2 linked regions of the Homo sapiens genome follow. Each later gene encodes a partner of the first gene's protein in a complex. Each region holds a gene or a part of one and is shown on either strand. Other genes may lie near its edges.

Region 1 (7,479 bases):
CAATGGTAAAGGTAGAGATTGAGTACTCCTTTTTCCTTATAGAAACTCAGGGCCAGGCAGTCAAGCCAGCTCCAGCCCTACCAGGATCCAGGTAACTGCTGACACAAGGGCCCAGAGAGTGTGGGCATTAGGGGAGAGGGCATTCTCAAGCTACTAGCACGAGGGTAGGGAGGGCAGTGGTCTCATGGTAGTTAAGTCAATATTGATTCAGGCTGAGAACTCTGTGCAGAGCCATGGAGCTGGTATAAGCAGATTCCAGCCAGACAGCCCAAGCCAGCTATGGGAGCCGCTACTGAAACAGATGGCAAAGAAAGCAGCCTGTGCACTCACCTCTCTCTGAATTGTTCCTCCCTACTGCGAGTCCCAAATACACTTGGACTGGGTCCCCTCTTGTCCCATGCCAATTATTGAAGGGTTCCTCCCAAACCTCTTCCCCAAATCAAGGAATCTCAATTTGCTGCTTTGGATGGTGTTCAGCATTCTCATGGAGCGTGGACTCAACTCTAAGAAGAAAGCAGGGAAATGAGAGGAAATATGATTTCTGGTTGGGGATGCTTCCAAGGAGGAAAGCTGCTTTTTTTTTTTTTTTTTTCCTGAGACAGAGTTTCACTCAGTCACCCAGGCTGGAGTGCAGTGGCGTGATCTCGGCTCACTGCAACCTTCGCCTCCTGGGTTCAAGTAATTCTCCTGCTTCAGCCTCCGGAGTAGCTGGGATTACAGAAGCTCGCCACCATGCCCGGCTAATTTTTTGTATTTTTAGTAGAGATGGGGTTTCACCATGTTGGCCGGACTGGTCTTGAACTCCTGACCTCGGGTGATCTGCCTGCCTCGGCCTCCCAAAATGCTGGGATTACAGGTGTGAGCCACCGCGCCTGGCAGGAAAGCTTCTAATAAGGGGAATTATGAGGAGACTGCACCATGACTAACGACAAGGAAGAGAAAGGAAGTGGGATAAGATGACATAACTACTCCCAAACAGACCTAGAATCAGAAAATGAATGGAATCTCACGTGCCCTTTCGCTATCACAGGCTGAGAGAGACATGGCAGCAACTAGTTGCCTAAGTCTCAGTTCACTCCAAGTTCTCTTTTCCAGCCAGCTTCCTCAAAGTGCTTTCCCACAAACATACTTTCTACCTATAGAATCTGGAGTTATGGATCAAGTACGTGAGGAACAGGACAGAAAATCAGCCACTTAATGCACTGGGGGAAAAAGCAAAGCAGATGAAGGAAGCAGGCCTGGAGCTTGTCTTTCAAAATGACTTACACCCCTGGTTGTGGACTAGAAACATCTGACAGAAAGACCAAGGTGAAGGAAAATTCTCAGGATGACTAAACCACTACTAATAAATACCTTTTGCCTGAGGAACCCAAAATGTTTTGTAAACAAATAAACCAAATCTGATTTTTTCCCCCAACCCACATCCTGCTACCAACTTATTACTGCACTGATGCCTACAGAGAGTGGGCATTTTCCAAAAGGATCACTCTAGAGGTCAAGTGAGGAAGTCACATGCTGAACCCAGGAGTCCCGATTCTGAATGTACAAGCTCTTTCCATTGTCTCATGTTCCTTTTTCCAGTTATACCCTTACCCCACTCCAGGCCTGAATTCTTATGGAACCAACCAAAACTATTCTAGTAAACCACAAGAATAAACTGATTCCTCATGGATCTGGACAGGGGTGAGAAGGCACTCTATTCTGTGATTCCTTTAACAAAAGCCTAAAATTAAATAATCTGAAACAAGTTTTCTCACAATCTCATTCAATTTCCACGCAGGCCTGTTCATCCCTCTTAGTGGCTGCTCCGGAGTAGTCAACCAAGTGTAATCTGATAGGGACTTCTTCAAAACTTGCTCCGGCCTTCAGAAACACCCTTCTGTCCTGAACGGCCTGAGGCAGCTGAGGCTCCCCCTGCTCACAACACATTTTTCTTCTTAGTTCAAGGTTTAGTTGATCCTGAAATAAGTGGTATGTGGAGATAAAGAGTGTAACAGAGAACACATGAAGCCCACGGGAAAAACAGAACAAATGTCACAAGGATCAGAGAAATCCCTGAAACTCGAGGGAGGTGTCAAAGTTGGAAATCCTGAATGGGAAGGGCACTGTCAAATCTCTCCCCTACAGACAGAAACCTCTAGAAAGTTGGGGGATTGAGGAGGGAGAAAGAGAAGCTAAAGAAAGTTATAGGGATCATAATGCATCCCAGAGAAGAGTGAGGACTAGGTTCAAAGTAAGAATGTAAATGGTACTTTTGGATTGATGACAAGGGCCCGAGATCCCTTAAGGAGAAGGGAACAGGCAATTCTTGGAAGCCAGGAGCTGGCTGGGTAGGTGGGTGACAGTGAGGTAATGGAATCAGAAGCAGCACAGGAAGACAGGGATGCAATCTTTAGCTCAGGGAAATGGGAACCCAGTGCTGGAGTTGCACAGGGACATAGGAGGAAAAGTGCAAACTAGGAAAAGAGATAAAGGTGGAGTCCATGGAAAAGGTTTGGGGCAGGGGCAGAGACGACGAGGAAGGACAAGGATGGGCATTATGGGAGTCGTCTGATATGGAAAGGGTTCATGACTTAAAAAAAAGAATTATTCGAGACGTAGGCAACAGGGATGAGTGAGGGAGGGGGGAATCCCCGAGGCAGAGGGAGGAGCTAATAGAAGAGGAAGCCAAAAAGCGGAGGAGGACCCCAGGCCTGAGAGGAAAGGGTGGAGAAGGAACCCGGGGTGCAGCTGACACCAAGAGGGCAGTTTCGTAGTCGAACTCAGGTGGGGAAGACTGTGCGGGACAGGGTGGGAGAGGGACCCCCCCCCCCACCCAACAGGGCAAAGGTGACTCATGAAGGAGGAGTAGCTTACCTCTGGGGGACCCCCGCGGAGGGGGTGCGGGCAGTCGCGGTTGGACTGCCGACACTGCCGCCTCAGCAGCAGCGACCGCTCCCGGGTTCCATTGGCCGCCTGCGCTTCCCTGACAGCGGCCGCGGAGGCTGCACCAGGCCCCGGCTGCGGGGCTGCCCGCGGCGCCGCCTGAGGGGGCCTTCAGGCTGCCACAAGTTCGACCGGGCCACACAACCTCTTCTTCCTCCCTCAGTACAACCAAGACCAAAAAAATAATAAAATAAAATAAAATTCCCCAGCAGGTCTCGATGTAGTATTCTTCTCCGGAGTCCAAGCCAAGCCTTTCTTCCCAGGATACGCTTTCCTGCTTCCCCAGCGGTCAGGACCCTACCGATTCCATAGTAATCTAAGGAGTCGGGTGAGCTGCCTGGAACATGCCTGTTCAGAAATAGAAAAGGGGGCGGGGAAAAGATGTTTGGAAGCTCTCGAGGGAGAGAGGGCGAAGGGAGGAGCTTACGGGTGGGAGGAGGGGCCAATATTTAAGAAGCGGACCTAAGCGATAGCGTTTGCGAGGCTAAAGAAGCCGAGAGAGAAGTAAAATTTGCTGCATAAGTAGGGTGAGCAGGCGGCCGTGGGTGCCCTGTTAAAGAAGTATGGACATATGCATACTTCCAGAAGTATATTAACATGCAAGTTATATGTAAACGACCGTTTGAGTAACTAACCAAATTACCGTAATTGCAATCAATGACTTTTCCCCCTCCCGTATGCTACAAGACTCCCTTAGTAAATCAGGCCGTGGGATGGACGCTGGGTTCCTAGAAGGGCGCGCAGGAAGACGGCGGACGGGGAAGACGTTCTTTCTGACTGCCCTTTTCCTACTTATCTTGGAGGACGATGCGGAGTTTAAGCTCCTTAACATTTCGGGAATGGCGCGGTCCAACCGCGTCAGTCTTTTCGCCGTTAGAGGCCCGACTCGAGGCCGTGGTTCTGCCTCCGAGGTCACCAACCTGCCTGGGCAGCCTGTGACCTCCAGCATCCATATGCCCAGCCCTCCAGGGAGGGGCTGGACAGGGCCAGGTTGGGAGAGGTGAGTGAAACGACAAAGGCTTGGAGGGCACAATCCCTTCTTCCAAACAAAACGAAACCATATTAGGCCAAACAAATAAACAAAAACACGCCATGCAAATGGGCCTCTGGTGTTGCTTTTGTGTATTTTTCGTTTGTTTGTTTGTTTTGTAAAGACAGGGTCTTGCTATGTTGCCCAAGCTTGTCTCGAACTGTTAGCCTCAAGCAATCTGCCGGCCTCAGGTACCAAAGTGCTGGGATTATAGGCCCGACCTCGCCCAGCAAGTTTTTTGTGTATTTTTCGGTTAAGATTGTTGATTTAGAGCCCTCTTTGTCCTCAGAACCTCTATCTCAATGCCTTTCCTAGGGCTTTACTTAATATGCAATGCCCCTCATTAGTGCCTTACTTAATACATTGAGGCTAGTTATTTGAGCCCGGGTCTTGAATGCCATCTTCCCTGCCACTTACAAGCCGTTTGATTTGGAATAACTAATGTAACCTCTTTAAACCTCAGTTTCTATGTCTACAAAGAAGACATATGGATGAAGTAATATTAGCCCATTACAGGGTTTTGTTAGGATCAAGAGAGTACAAGTTGCTACTATAGTACTTTATTATTAATTATTGGGACAATCATACAGGATAGATGATGAAAGAGTCACTGCTACAATGTTTAATTGGAAGGCAGAATAAAGTGTAATAGCTTGAAAATGCCTGTGTAAAACATGCAGTATATACAACAGTAGAACAAATGGGGTACCTAACCTAATTGCTGAAGGGACATAGTGGAGTTTAAGTTAATTTGGAAGGCCTATATGTGTATGGACACACACACATACACACACACACACACACACACACACACACACACACACCAGTATATGGTGAATGAATGAATGGAAGGCTTCTTAGAAATATTGTGAGTCAGGTCTTAGAATAGATATTGGATATAACCCAGCAAAATAAAAGACAAGCGAGCATTCTGAAAGCAAAAAAATTGTATGTTGAAGAATATAAATGGGAATTTGCTCATATCATGAGGAGAGGGCAAGCAGACAAGCTAGGTTAAAGCAGGAGTACAGTATGAAAGATGAACAAAGAATGGGGACAAGAGTGCCAAAGATAGTTTAAATTTGTCAGCTGGGCACAGTGGCTCACACCTGTAATCCCAGCACTTTGGGAGGCTGAGGTGGGCAGATTGCTTGAGCTCAGGGGTTTGAGACCAGCCTGGGCAACATGGTGAAACCACGTCTCTTCAAAAATACAAAAATTAGCCTAGCTGGCATGGTGGCATGCACCTGTAGTCCCAGCTACTTAGGAGGCTGAGGTAGGAGGATCACTTGAGCCTGGGAGACAGAGGCTGCAGTGAGCCAAGATCATGCCACTGCACTCCAGCCTGGACAACGGAGTGAGACCCTGTCTCAAAAAAAAAAATCGGCTTGGCGTGGTGGCTCACGCCTGTAATCCCAGCACTTTGGGAGTCCGAGGTGGGTGGATCAGTCGAGGTCAGGAGTTTGAGACCAGCCTGACCGACTTGGTGAAACCCTGTCTCTACTAAAAATACAAAAATTAGCTGGGCATGGTGGTGGGTGCCTATAATCCCAGCTACTAGGGAGGGTGAGGCAGGGAATCACTTGAACCTGAGAGGCAGAGGTTGCAGTGAGCCGAGATTGCGCCATTGCACTCCAGCCTGGGCAACAGAGCGAGACTCCATCTCAAAAAAAAAAAAAAAATTCTCACCACTGGTCTGGATTGGGGAGAATCACCAGTCCACATGTTAGGCCCACCAGCTCTTGGCCAGCTTCCAATCAGCTGTCCCGCAAATATCATGAGGCGATGACCCTGCTTTAGCCTAGAGTTTAAAATGTCATGTATCCCCTCAAGGGATAACCTTCCAAACAGCCACAAGACTAGCCTTTTGAAACATTGTAGAAAGACATGTGACAACCTTTTTTATAGTAGGAAGTTTTCTTATTTTCCAATGACAGAAAAAATTTCAGAAACATCTCTTCAAATTTGAAGCAGGAACTTTTTATAGCTAGTCAGTTATAGACCACCCTACTAAAAATACACACACACACAAACATAAGTAGAAGATTTTAAGTTTCCTATTTATAGCTCTAAGGGTTCATATGTATAAATTTCTTTCTTTCTTTTTTTTTTCTTTTTGAGACAGAGTCTCCCTCTGTCGCCCAGGCTGGAGTGCAATGGTGCAATCTTGGCTCAAGGGACCCTCCTCCACCTCCTGGATTCAAGCGATTCTTCTGCCTCAGCCTCCCGAGTAGCTGGGATTACAGGCATGCGTCACCATGCCCAGCTAATTTTTGTATTTTTAGTAGAGACGGGGTTTCACCATGTTGGCCAGGATGGTCTTGATCTCTTGAACTCGTGATCCGCCCGCCTCGGCCTCCTAAAGTGCTGGGATTACAGGCGTGAGCCACTGTGCCTGGCCCATATGTATAAATTTCTTTGCATCCCTTTATGACTGTCTTTCTGCCGTTTTCGGGAGGGTTTCTTTTTTTTTTTTTTATCATCTTCTGTTTTTTGTTTTTGTTTTTTTTGAGACAGGGTCTTGCTTTTTTGCCCAGGCTGGAGTGCAGTGGCGTGATCTCAGCTCACTGCAAACTCTGCCTCCCGAATTCAAGCGATTGTCGTGCTTCAGCCTCCCAAGTAGCTGGGATTACAGGTGCACGCCACCACGCCCAGCTAATTTTTGTATTTTTAGTAGAGATGGGGTTTCACCATGTTGCCCAGGCTGGTCTCGAACTCCCAACCTCAGGTGATCTGCCCACCTTGGCCTCCCAAAACGCTGGGATTATAGGTGTGAGCCACTGTGTCTCTACCAAAATCACAAAAATTAGCGAGACGTGGTAGTATGCACCTGTGGGAAGGCTTAGGCAGGAGAATTGCTTGAACCTGGGAGGTAGAGGTTGCAGTGAGCTGCAATCATGCCACTGCACTCCAGCCTGGGTGACAGAGTGAGACACACACACACACACACATACACACACACACACACAAAGATTGAATGCAGAAGCAGATATGAGAACCCAGTCTGACATTAAAGAAATTTCCCCCTTTAAAAACAATGCCAATTGTCTCATTGATTTTTTTTCTTGTTTCGGAAAATATAGTTATTTTTCAAAAATGATTTAGTTCATATATATATATATATATATTTTATATATATATTTTTTTCTTTTTCTTTTTTTTTTTTTTAATTGAGACAGAGTCTCACTCTGTTGTCCAGGCTGGAGTGCAGTGGTGCCATCTCAGCTCACTGCAACCTCCGCCTCCCGGGTTGGAGCCATTCTCCTGCCTTAGCTTCCTAAGTAGCTGGGATTACAGGCACCCACCACCACACCCAGCTAATTTTTGTTATTTTCGTAGAGACAGTGTTTCACCATGTTGGCCAGGCTGGTCTCAAACTCCTGACCTCAAGTGATCCACCCGTCTCGTCCTCCCAAAGTGCTGGGATTACAGGCATGAGCCACCACACCCGGCCAAAAATATTTTTTAAATAAATATTTTGACTAAGTTATGTTTTCCTCCCCCTGATTTGTCTTTTTTCTCCT
Region 2 (7,346 bases), about 75 Mb from region 1:
ATCACCTGAGGTCGGCAGTTCGAGACCAGCATGGAGAAACCCCGTCTCTACTAGAAATACAAAAGTACCTGGGCGTGGTGGCACATGCCTGTAATCTCAGCTACTCGGGAGGCAGAGGCAGGAGAATCACTTGAACCCTCGAGGCAGAGGTTGCAGTGAGCTGAGATCGCGCCATTGCACTCTAGCCTGAGCAACAAGAATCAAACTCTGCCTAAAAAAAAAAAAAAAAAAAAAAACCAGGCTGGGCACAGTGGCTCACACCTGTAATCCCAGCACTTTGGGAGGCTGACGCAGGAGGATCACGAGGTCAGGAAATCGAGACCATCCTGGCTAACACGGTGAAACCTCGTCTCTACGAAAAATACAAAAAATTAGCCGGGCGTGGTGGTGGGCACCTGTAGTCCCAGCTACTCGGGAGGCTGAGGCAGGAGAATGGAGTGAATCCGGGAGGTGGAGCTTGCAGTGAGCCCCGAGATGGCACCACTGCACTCCAGCCTGGGCGACAGAGTGAGACTCTATCTCAAAAACAAAAAACAAAACAAAGGCAGCATTACTTGGCTCACTCCACATTCCATAATTCTTCTGACTGCTTTTACATCCTTCCCTTTTGTCAGTTAGTGTCTCATATACTAACAGTCTCCAATGACACATGCAGAAAGGTAGCTTTTAATTGCTACACAGCTATTTCTCCTTTTTAGTACCTGGATATTGCTTTGAGAACTTCATTTAGGAAGTGAGTGAACCACACCTATCAGTGTAGCTTTATTCTCTAAGGTGACTAACACCTAGGCCCCAAGTTATAAGTTTCCCCAGGATTCCTACCACTCAAGACACATGTTAAAATAATCTGTTAGGTTAAGACCACTGAATCTTAAATCTGAGACATCATATTTTATAGAATCCAGCTCCCTTTATACATATGAAACTGATTCTGGAAAAGTTAATTGTCTAGTTTACAAGGTAACTAGAATCCAGAGCTTCCTGACTCTCCAAACAATGTTAAGTATACTACACGTTACAGTGTTTTAATCTTTTTCTTTGTTTTGAGACAGAATTTCACTTTGTCGCCCAGGATGGAGTGCAGTGGCATGATCTCGGCTCACTGCAACCTCTGCCTCCCATATTGAAGCGATTCTTTTTTTTTTTTTAGACGGAGTTTTGCTCGTCGCCCAGGCTGGAGTACAATGGTGCCATCTTGGCTCACTGCAACCTCCGCCTCCCGGGTTCAAGTGATTCTCCTGCCTCAGCCTCCCTCAGTCCTGCAACAGAGCAGGACTCCAGCTCAAAAAAAAAAAAAAAAAGGAATTAGTTCATTTCTACTCTTACTCTCTGCTACAATATACTTTACTGAAAAATAAGTTCCAAGAATAAAAATTTAAGATGGAATGTAGCTATATGAATTGTACAGAAACCACCTGATTTTTATCAAGTGGTAATATATCATCACTACAGCAAACTCTAAATTCAAGCCGGTGATCTAAAAGTCAAATGATCCAAAACCCATTAGCCATTACCAATTCCCCAAGCTAGTTAGTACACAGAGGGCTCAACTCATTGTGCAATGACCACGAATATGTCATTGAATGTGAAATGATCAAATGTTCTGGAAAATTTATAAAACTTTCACTAGTTTGCACAATTAAAGTTATTTTGAGAGAAAACAACTTCCGTGTGTATCATTACATTGAACTACTCAACTTTGGCTAGTAAAATATGTACTCCAAAAGGTACTCCCTCTGGGGAAAGTGTCATAAATATGCTGCTCTGGAATGTACGTGGAACCTAGCAACCACTTTTAAAGTTGCATTTGCTGATGTCCCTCCCTGTCCATTCGCCCTACAAGACTAAGTATCTTTAAGAATCAAACTAACGGGCTTTCATCAGTTTTTCCCACTGACAAAAATCATGTGATTGGTCTCTCCACCATTCGACTAAGTGAATCACCCAATTAAAAAAAAAAAAAACCGCACACTACAATCTTGCTCTAAGACAAGAGACATTTAACAATTAATTATGCGAAAAGCACAGAAGGTACTGTTAGGCCTTACTCTGAGAATTCACTCTTGCACATTGCTTACAATGTAAAATTTTAACCACCTAGAAGTTACTAGAACATAGTGGACATCTCTCCTCAAGAGTTTGACAAGCCGGAGAGGATGATGAGCTTAACACTTTACTTCCTCCTCTCTGCCACATCAATCTGCCGGGGGATCAAGTCCTGTTCCAGTTTATGGTTCCCAAGAATGGCTGGAAAAGCTATGTATGGAACCTCTTGACAGATTTCTTCCACTAAGGGTAAAAATCGGCGGGTTCTGATGTGACAAGCCATGGGAAATAGGAAAAGAAAAGCGTCAGTTAAAAAAATAATAATAATAAAAGGCAATCCCAGAATGGGATCCTTTGGAAGAAAGTGGGCTCATTCTTCCACCAGGGCTCCTGGAAATCCCAGAAGCTAAATCAGGTAAAATGTCCCGGTAACCTCTGGGAGGCGGGACATGACTGCTAAACCAAGGTTGCAGGCCCGTCAGGGGTGTGACCTAGTGGCCAAGCGGGTAGTGACAAACTTCGGGTACCCCCAAGGAGGGAACCCCGCTTGAGTCACCACAGCCCAGTATGAGTGGGTGAGGGCAAGTCTGGTCCAGTCACCCTGGGGACCACAGCCCACGCCGGGCTCCCGGGGCCGGGCAGAAGCGGCGGGGGTGGGGCTGGCCCGGCTCACCTTTGAAGAAGCGCAGTGCCAGGCCGTACAACTCCTCCAGGCCGAAACCCCAGCGCTGCTCCAGCCGCCGCGCCTCCTCCGCCGCGCCCCCAGCCGCCGCCTCCCCGGGCTCGGGCTGCTCCCCTGAGGCGCCCGGGCCGCGACCGGATCCAGGTGGCGAGGGCGGTGGCAGCGGTGGCGGCAGCAGCGGGGCGCCCTCCGCCCCAGGCCGCTCCTCCGGGTCCGGGCTGAGCGTGAGGCCGTCGACGGACACCTCGAGTCGCTCTGCGTTCAGCACCGCCGCCATCTCCGGCTGCTGCACCTCCTCAGCGGGGACAGACGGCAGCCACGTATCGACTTCCTGCTGACCTCTGACCTCCGCTTACCGACACCGGAACTTCCGCTGCTGAGGAGGCTGGAGGGCTCCGGGAGAGGGGCTGAGGCCTGGCGCCCCACCCCCTCCGGAATCGTCAGTTGCCCTGGCTCAGCGACCACCCTTCAGGCTCCCCAACTCCCGTTGGTCCCGAACTCCCCTCCCCCGCACCCCATCCTTTCGGATCCCAGTTGCTCCAGGTGGGCGGGTGCTACCACCCCCACCGCTCGGTTCGGTGCTGCGGCTGTCAGTGCCCAGCAGGGGCGGGGTCAGTGGAGCCCCGCGCGGGGGTCGGAGTAGGGAGGATTGACGAGGTCGGCCAGCACCCAACCCTCCAGGTCAGAGGCCCTTCACATTTGCAGGGGCCTGCGTGGTTGGCAGAGCTCTTTTGCCCACCACCATCTCGTTTGGCCTTCACAGCAACTCTAAGGAAATGCAGGGCAAATTCCCAATTTTTTTAAAAGGGGAAACTGAGACTGCAGAGAAATTCAGTGACTTTGAGGTTGCAGACGGGGCTGATCCTGGTTTTGCAGGAAGCGCAGCTCATACAATTTGTGGGGACCCTCATTAGGAAAGAGTACAAAAAGTTACGCGCAGAAGGGTAGGAAAGTGAATGTATATTTAGAAAGAGAAAGAAAAAACAAATGATATTTTAAAAGTTAATAAAACCCACAAACATCACACACATAACCGTAATATTTTCATTGACTGCCTGATATTCTTCTACAGGGCGTCTGAGAGCCCAGAAACCTATTTTTTTCTAAAAGATTGAAGTCGCCCCCGACATTATGTATATTCACCTGTGTTTCCAGACTTTGGGAGCACCATTTATGATCATTTTTCCCACCTTTGTTTTGGCTGCGTACTTCTGATTGCCTTTTCCTATAACAATTATTTTGTAACTTTTTTTTTTTTTTTTTTTTTTTGTTTTTTGCAGACAGTCCTGCTGTGCCACCCAGGCTGGAGTGTAGTGGTGCAATTCGGTTCACTGCAACCTCTGCCTCCCGGGTTCAAGCAACTCTCCTGCCTCAGCCTCCCAAGTAGTTGGGATTACAGGTGCTCACCACCACGCCCGGCTAATTTTTGTAAACTTAGTAGAGTCAGAGTTTCCCCATGTTGGCCAGGCTGGTCTCAAACTCCTGACCTCATGTGATCTGCCCGCCTCAGCCTCCCCAAAGTGCTGGGATTACAGGTGAGAGCCACCGCGCCCGGCGTATTTTGTAATTCTCTATAAAGAAAAGAGAAAGATCAGTCTTTTCTCCAGCATGGCTGATTAAATTTGTTTCTTAATAATTGTTTATAAATTTATTTCAGCATCACAACTCATTACTGATATTGTTAACGTACTTTTTTAGGGTTATTGTTCAGTTTGGGAAACCTCTCTCAAGTTTCATGGATGTGCTATGAGATTTTTATGGCCGTTTGGCTGCTTCAGTGACAATTTTGTGTGTGGTTTTTACTGAAGCCCTAGAGAGTTTTTTTCTTTTTTTTGAGACGGAGTCTCTCTCTGTCGCCCACGCTGGAGTGCAGTGGCGCGATCTTGGCTCACTGCAAGCTCCGCCTCCAGGGTTCACGCCATTCTCCTGCCTCAGCCTCCTGAGTAGCTGGGACTATAGGTGCCCACCACCATGCCCGGCTAATTTTTTTGTATTTTTAGTAGAGACGAGGTTTCACCGTGTTAGCCAGGATGGTCTCAATCTCCTGACCTTGTGATATGCCCGCCTCGGCCTCCCAAAGTGCTGGGATTACAGGCGTGAGCCACCGCGCCTGGCCGAGGGTTTTTTTCAGGACAAGATTTGTATGCTGCATTCAGACAGGATCTCATTCATTACGGTGGATAAGACATATAACTTCACATACAGACAGACTCACTGTAGTACAACTATAAGTTTTTGTCCCATAAACATAGGGTTTCTAATCTATTCCCTTTTGCATGCTTCACATAAAAACATGAAGTATGGTGCAGTTATAATTGCAGATATGACTTAGATTCTCAGTGAGTGAGAACCTTCATTTTGATTAGGCATTGAGAGAATTGATCCCTCTCCTTATAATCTTCCACTTCTGATGGTTGGAAGCATATTTTTAAGTCTTTTAATTTTAATTACTCAAAGAAGCTTCATTTTTTATTTAGCTTTCTGACCCTGTGCTTGTGCCTTCAACACTCTCACAATGATTTTCTTTTCCTCGATAAGGAAAACATGCTTGATCCTGTCACAAACACATATAGCACACATGGAACCACCATAGGCCCTGCTGACATGGTTTTTTGTGTTTTGGACAATCTCATAAGACTTCGGGTCTTATAGCACGAACCCCTTGAAGTCTGCGTGGGTACACACCACAGTAGATTTTGGTGCTTTCCCAGCCTTCTTGGTATAAAGGTAAGCAATTATATTACCAGGGGTTCAGGACAGCCTAGTTTTATTAGAAGCTGTATTGTAGGAAAGCCTACAACAGTATGTCAAACGCTGGACCATTCTATGTGCCTATAGACAACATCCCCAGAAGAGGAAAAAGAATGGAAGAATTTTACTAGCTCTTTCTTTTCTTTCAAACCTTGTTGCTCCTCCACTACCCAAGTACTTCCTGTGTCAGGCAACATAGGGTTCCTTCGCCCTTTGGCCTTGCACTTTTGTGACATGGTGCTGGCTGAATTGACATAATGGGCAGTAGGTATATTCCAGAAAGCCATTCCTACACCCATGGTGAGCAATAATTTAAAAACATGCAGAAGTGACTGCAAACCACTTAAATGCATGCCACTGACCCCAAATTAAATGTATCCCTATTCATTGTCCCCTTAGCCAAATCCCCCACAAAGCCTATAGCCATTTCAATACCTCCTAACCAGAGGAGGATGACGAAGGGAAGTTAGAAACGAAGACAGAGGTCTTAAATATCTTACTCTCAAAACTGTTACAGAAGTGTATACTGCTAAGGCCGCTCTAAGGGCCTTGGGAGGGGCCTGTGTAAGCAAGGGGCCCTGAAGCTTGAGCTTCATTAACTTTATGGTAAACCCACTTCTAGTTGTAGAGGACTAAAAACTCTAATTCTACTGCTCTAAGGTCTGTGTTCTTCCCACTTAGCTTGGATCTTTATATTTAGCTTCATTAGCTTAAAAATATGCATATTATGTGCCTAACCTTCAAAATGTTATATATACATATATATTCCCCTGTGTTTTGCTCAGTGTTCTACCTTTAACATTCAATAACTGTTGGGATGATAATGAGTAGGGTAAATATAACCCTTCTTCATGAAATGCTAGATTCTGTTTTCCAAGTTTTCACGATAAGCATTTCTTTTGTAATCAGAAAAAAAGTTATTTTTTTAAAAAGTATACAATAATTATTAAAACCTATAGAATATACCTAGGAAGGTAGGTAAAATATGGTAATTAATTAATTACATGGACTTTTTATACAAAAATTAGCTGGGCGTGGTGGTAGGCACTTGTAATCCCAGCTGCTCAGGAGGCTGAGGCAGGAGAATTGCTTGAACCTGAGAGGTGGATGTTGCAGTGAGCCAAGATCACACCACTGCGCTCCAGCCTAGGTGATGGAGAGAGACTGTCTCAAAAAAAGACATACATTAAAAAAAATTATATGGACTTTTTTATTGTTTTGTAATTTAACATATTGAATATGGTTGGAAAACCCAAACATCCTCTAGACCAAGCATCTGAACCTCTTGCTAATCGAAACATCAAGGGCCATTGTGTAGGTGGTTGCCCTTAATGACTAAAAACATTAGGGGTTGGCACAGTGCGTCATGCCTGTAATCCCAGCACTTTGGGAGGCTGAGGCAGGAGGATTGTTCGAGCCCAGGAGTTTGAGAACAGCCTGGGCAGCATAGGAAGACCCTGTCTCTACAAAAAATAAAAAATTAGCTGGGCATGGTGGCATGTGCCTAGGGTCCAGCTACTTGGGAGGCTGAGGTGGAAGGATCACTTGAGCCTGGGAGGTCAAGGCTCCAGTAAACCATGATGGCGTCACTGCATTCCAGCCTGGGCGACAGAAGGAGACCCTGTTTCTAAAAAATAAAATTAAAAAATTAGAGAATATAACTTCGCTTTAACAGTTCACTGTGGGAGATGAGTTCCAGACACGCTCACCTGAATGTCTTATTAAACTGCAGATTCTGACTCAGTAGGTATAGAGGGAGGCCTGAGAGTATACATTTCTCATAAGCTTTCTGGTGATGCCGATGCTGCTGTCTACAGACCACACTTTGAATAGCAAGTCTAGGAAACGTGTTTTTCCCATGCTTTAT

What was found.
Region 2: the proteins of PI4KB (region 1) and ACBD3 are in contact, whole or in part, in an NMR structure (PDB 2N73), measured with the Homo sapiens proteins. Residues at the interface, in NP_001317650.1 of Homo sapiens: Val37, Gly38, Val42, Ile43, Asp44, Pro45, Val47, Ala48, Gln49, Lys50, Ala51, Cys52, Glu54, Val55, Leu56, Val59, Lys60, His63; in NP_073572.2 of Homo sapiens: Gln245, Ile246, Ala249, Leu250, Gln253, Thr254, Gln257, Phe258, Tyr261, Gln265, Tyr266, Leu276, Leu280, Gln283, His284, Gln287, Tyr288, Gln291, Leu292, Val295.

Annotation. Positions count from the first base shown.
Region 1 is NC_000001.11:151,324,415-151,331,893, forward strand, and holds the start of PI4KB (phosphatidylinositol 4-kinase beta), read right to left. Parts: upstream 3,003-7,479; 5' UTR 2,857-3,002; intron 1,960-2,856; exon of another isoform or gene 1,766-1,959; coding exon of another isoform or gene 1,758-1,765; intron 504-1,757; exon of another isoform or gene 331-503; intron 1-330. UniProt on the Homo sapiens protein: Phosphorylates phosphatidylinositol (PI) in the first committed step in the production of the second messenger inositol-1,4,5,-trisphosphate (PIP). May regulate Golgi disintegration/reorganization during mitosis, possibly via its phosphorylation.
Region 2 is NC_000001.11:226,183,671-226,191,016, forward strand, and holds the start of ACBD3 (Golgi resident protein GCP60), read right to left. Parts: upstream 3,072-7,346; 5' UTR 3,006-3,071; coding exon 2,720-3,005; intron 1-2,719. UniProt on the Homo sapiens protein: Involved in the maintenance of Golgi structure by interacting with giantin, affecting protein transport between the endoplasmic reticulum and Golgi. Involved in hormone-induced steroid biosynthesis in testicular Leydig cells.